Linked DNA regions of Homo sapiens: region 2 is linked to region 1. The links come from fine-mapping of genetic effects on gene expression. Tissue or cell type: pancreas. Region 1 holds a variant in brackets; the other region holds the start of a gene. All regions are shown on one strand. Distances are between the middles of the regions.

Evidence for each region. PIP is the estimated chance that this variant, and not a neighbour inherited with it, causes the effect.
Region 2: it holds the start of PHACTR2, and the variant in region 1 is fine-mapped to the expression of PHACTR2 in pancreas (GTEx, PIP above 0.99).

The regions. Positions count from the first base shown.
Region 1 is chr6:143,763,583-143,766,273 of GRCh38, forward strand. PHACTR2 (phosphatase and actin regulator 2) reads left to right here. Exons shown (of 13, transcript NM_001100164.2): 6 at 1,679-2,216. Among named protein-coding and RNA genes, the nearest start is that of LTV1, 78 kb to the right of the region's middle. The variant G/A (reference allele first, on the strand shown) is at 1,675.
Region 2 is chr6:143,676,546-143,679,236 of GRCh38, forward strand. It overlaps PHACTR2 (phosphatase and actin regulator 2), which reads left to right and starts at 1,420. Exons shown (of 13, transcript NM_001100164.2): 1 at 1,420-1,664. The coding sequence starts at 1,619. RefSeq lists an enhancer at 764-1,612 and a silencer at 1,362-1,661.

The DNA.
Region 1 (2,691 bases):
CTAGATTTGGGGAAGAAGAATTCTAGTTATGTATATCTTAAACGATAAAGACCCCAAAACCATAGGGATTCCTTTTAAGCCTGGAACCTGTCACTAAATAAGACTGGCTTCTTTAGTATCAGTCTAATCAGAATAAATGAAGTCTTACATCTCATTGTCTATTCTTTCATTTATTCTTCATCTCTTCACCCTCCCAATTGACTTCAATAAAGTCATAACTGGAGGTAAGTTATAATAACATCTGTATACAGTGTGGATTGGCTTCACAATGCTAACAAGATGTTTTCTAATCGTTCTGTGAAAGATAGTTGAACCCTTCATGAAGAGAAGGAGCATAACAACATTATAACAGAAGAAGCCATTAGGATAAATTTATAGGTCATGAAAGAAAAGAGTATTCTCATAGGAGTTTATTTTATCATCATATATTTACTAAGATGACATAAAGAAAAAAGTAGTTAATCTTTTTGTTTTGAAACTGTTTTGATTGAGGGTGCCCTATCCGGAAGTAGGCAAATATACCATAGCTATCCTTCGATGAAGACCTTCTTGGAACTTAAGCATTAAGGAAGATCACATTTGCGAAGGTGGAGTCAGAAGACCTGAGAATGATATCCTTTCCATTCACATTATTTAGAACCAGACACGGTGGCTCACACCTGTAATTCTTTGGAGCCACCAAAGCCTCTCACTTTGGGAGGCTGAGATGGGTGAATCCCTTGAGCCCAGGAGTTCAAGACCAGCCTGGGCAACATGACAAAACCCTGTCTCAACAAAAATACATTAAAGTTAGCCAGGCATGGTGGTACACACCTGTAGTCCCAGCTACTCAGGAGGCTAAGGCAGGAGGATCACTTGAGCCCAGGAGGCAGAAGTTATAGTGAGCCGATATTGCACCACTGCATTCCAGCCTGGGCGACAGAACAAGACCTTGTCTCAAAAAAAAAAAAAAAAAGGAGCAACCCATGTAAATAGGTTTTGTAAACAACAAGTTTTTTTCTGGCCTTTTGATGCTTTGAAGGGAGTGTACCTTTCCTGTGTGGCCATGGGTTTTCCCTTTACCCCATCTCTACTGCAGATGGAAGTAGAGTCCAGCATGGCGAGCTTTCTTCTCTGGAGCTACTGGAAAGCTGGTGTGGATTTTCTCTTTTAGCAGTAAGATGAGTGATTTTGTTTTTGACCCAGAAAGAAGCTGGATATATACCCCAGTCTCTTCTGAATACAGGCCACCACTCTATTCCTAGAAAGACAGCATAGAACATGTATAATTTATGATGAGCCTAATTGTGTGCTACACCCAGCTAGCTGCTGATGTCTGTCCTTTACGCACCATAACATTCCTTCTTGAGAGCATACCGGGCTTTTTTCAAGTGAACCATAGACAAGGGGCAGAAGATTCTCCCTTTGGCTGGCTCAGCTAAAGACTAAAGTGAGAGAAGACAGAGGACTCTTGTTCCTCTGAGTTTTGCCGTAAATATCACTTGCTCCTTGCTGGATTGGAGGAAGGGAGGGGCAGAAGACAAGACTATTATCATGATTAGCCTATTTTCTCTTATACATTTATTCAACAAACTTTAAAGGGAACATTTTAAATGTTGTTGACAGTTACACCTTGGTTACTTTATTTTAAAAAGCATTGTATTCTTTGATTTTTTAATGCAAGGTCTCTCTATT[G/A]TAGCTGGCTCCTCTCATTCAAAAAAAACAACTGGCTCTAAAGCATCAGCTTCGCCATCCACTTCATCCACCTCATCTCGTCCCAAAGCTTCAAAGGAGACAGTTTCTAGCAAAGCAGGGACAGTGGGGACCACCAAGGGCAAGAGAAAAACTGACAAGCAGCCAATAACTTCTCACCTGTCCTCAGACACAACAACTTCTGGCACATCCGACCTGAAAGGAGAGCCTGCAGAGACCAGAGTGGAGAGTTTCAAACTCGAACAGACTGTCCCTGGAGCTGAGGAGCAGAACACAGGCAAATTCAAGTCCATGGTCCCTCCACCCCCTGTGGCTCCAGCACCTTCTCCTCTGGCCCCCCCTCTCCCTCTTGAGGATCAGTGCATTACTGCCTCAGACACTCCAGTTGTCCTCGTCAGCGTTGGAGCTGACCTGCCCGTCTCTGCCTTAGACCCAAGTCAGCTTCTTTGGGCTGAAGAGCCGACGAACAGAACCACTCTCTACTCAGGCACTGGCTTAAGTGTTAACAGAGAAAATGCAAAATGGTGAGTTGGGGAACAAACCCCCTATTTTATCTGAGAACTAAAGATCACTAATATATTCTGTTGGAAATGAAGCACCGGGTTTGCTTTCTTATATAATTTAATCTACTGAGTGTTAGGTAGGCATACATGTGATCCAACCATTGCTTTGTCAGAGCCCTGCCCTGGGAATGCCTAGGGCTGCTGGAGAAAATTACATTGGTAGAGCTGACAAATACCACTTGAGATCAATGTTTTCAAGTACACTTAGAACCTGCTTCAGCACTGCTCAGCAGTCCACAGTTCCCTTCTCTTTCCTTTCAGTGCTTATTTTAAATCTTTACTTTACCATTGTGCTTACCTACTCATGTCAGCAAGTTACTGAGCCTTCCCCTTCACCAAGAACATAAAGAAGATCAGAAGAGAACTCTCAAATTTGAACTCTTTTTTCTCCATCAGTAGAGTTGTCCCCTTTCTTGTTCCTTTAAATTCCCACCCA
Region 2 (2,691 bases), 87 kb before region 1:
TTGTTTGTTTTTTTCTTACGGCAACTCAAAGCAAAGAGCTGGAGGAGCCAGCCATTATAATTGCTTACTCTCATCGCTTAGCGCCCCAGGTGGGATGTGTTTCCAAAACACATTTTTGTATTTATAAGGAAATGTAGTTAGGATTAATTTTATTGTCCTAATTAGAACTCACATTTTGGTTAAATCCTCAATTTCATTAAAAAAAAAAAAATCAGTGTTTCTTAAGAGTGAATTAGGCAAAGGGAAGAAGACAATGGATCACACTTTTTTAGGGAAAAGATCTTCCTCACAGTGGTGGGTGGGCTATTTGGGTGTGAAAAAACATAGGGCAACTTAATTAACCATGACAAAACAGACAAGTAAGTGCCTTTCAAAAAAATCAAACAAGGCTCTGCACGATCTTAATAATAAAAATTTTAGAAAAAAATGATTTTCATGTTAGTTCAGAGTTGATTGTCTAGGATAAATTAAAAAATGAAAGCTGTGGTAAATGACCTAAATATATTGCACTTTCTGATATTTTTTACATTTTAATGAAATATATGCCTTCAGCAAAGTGCACACATCATTACAGACATCTCAATGAATTTTCATAAAATGAACACATCCAGTAACCACCATCCAATCTAATGCACCATATACAGATGTTCCATATACTGTATATATATATACACACATTATATATATATAGCATGAAGATTACTTATACTAATTAATCATTAACTGTAAATATGAAGAATATTTATTTGTATTCATATTTTTAAGAAGATTGAGATTTAACAGGATATTATAGAAGGGTTTAATTCACCTTTCAAGTTTGTTATAGTTTTTTTCCCCTTTTGTGTATTTTAATCACTTTATTTCACAGTAATTCTTTTGAAATAAAGGAGAGGTCAGCACTCCAGAGTTTTAGGTGGGAGACAGCAAAAAGTATATTTTGTTGATCTCACACGTAGACCTACCATTTAGATTTGTTGTCAAGCCTGATTGAGGCCATTAGTGCCGTTTTTAAAAAATTATATTTGTTAAAAGGAAGATAATTTTTAAAACGAGAAAAAAATGGGCACAAGACATGAGAGTGCCACAATACTGCAAATAGAATGTAAGGAAGGAAATAACTTTTAAGAAACAAATTTTGTTAAATTAAGTACCGTGACTAAATACTTTAATTCCTTTTCTTGTAGCCCGTAAGGATCATTTGACTTTGAACCTTTTAAGTCAAAGAGGAGTAGTCTGAAAGCCTGAACTCCCTACCACCCTGAGGGGGTGCGGGTGCGGCGGGGCCGGCTGGGGGCTTCCCCCACCCCCTGCTCCTGCGCCCTCCCCCCGCTTCCCCCTCCTCCCCTCCCTATCGCCCTCACCCCCCTTCTTCCCCCGTGACCCCTGACCCCAGCTAATCTGCATAGAGGAATGACAGGCATCCGCTGGGCAGGATCCGCCGCGCCGGCTGCGGCCGGCCGGGCTGGGAGACCCGCGCGGGGTAGAAGGTGAGGGGACCCGGCGGGCCGCTCGGCACAGGCCGGGACATGAACGCCTGGAAGTCTGGCTGGGAGCGGACCCATGATCGAAGGACCAAAGGAGCCGCTTGATCGCTGGACCTGGCCCTGCGACCCCAGTCATGGGCCAGACCTCGGTGTCCACGCTGTCCCCGCAGCCCGGCAGCGGTGAGTCCGGGGCGCACGCGATGCGCTCCCGCCGCGCGGGCGCAGGGCTGGCGGCGGGGCCCCGGGGCAGGCAGGGTTAGTCGTCTGGTCGGGTTCCGCTCGGACCCGCCAAGTCCCTCGGAGAAACCCCAGAGGTAGCGCTCGCCAAACTCTTTGTCGTGAAAGAGGAATGCCTTTTGGGATCCAGCCGATTTTACCTTAAAGGCACAGGCTCCATTTTTCTGTGCGCGATGCCTCGCTGTGGTTTTTTATCCAAATTATTTCGGAGCCAGAAACTTACGGGAAACGCCATTTGCGTATTACAGTGTTTTTAAAAACGCGAAACTTAGAGAGCAAGAGAAACATGCCAACAGGTTTTTCTGTATTTACGCTTGGCTTCCGAACAGACTAGGACTGAATGCTTTCAAGCTTGTCAACTGATTTATGGTTTGTTATTCGGAGTAGAAGCGCTGATCGCCTTATCCTGGCAGACGCTGAATACTTAATAACTAGCCCCGAAATGCGTAATTGTTTCAAATGAGACTTGTTTTGTTTATAGTAGATACAGCAGCTATAACATTTAGGGAAACATATCTCATGAACTTAGTTCTCCAGGACTAAAGTTAGTTTTATGGAGACGTGTGTAACGTGTCTGAGTTCTAATGCTCTGTTTTAAAAGTTTCTTTTTTCCATTTTCTTAAACAAAAAGAGGGAAGGAAGGTACGTCTGGCATTTCCCCGACAGTGTAGGGATAAAAAAAAAAAAAACTGTTTGGTGGTGTTACTTGTGATTGGATAAGGAAATAAATTTAAAAGGTACTATTTTGATATTTTTCCATCAACGATTAAAAATAAATAATACTCGAAGGGACCGTTTATGTTACTCATTGAGATATTTGATACACTTTTTAAATTGTGCAAACATCAACAGGATCTTGCTGAAAGGAAATGACAGGGTACAGAGGAAGGTTTTTTAATCTGCCTCAGGATGTCTAGCTAGATAGCATTCTGTCATTCCAACCCCCCACCCCACTTTATACCCAGTGGGT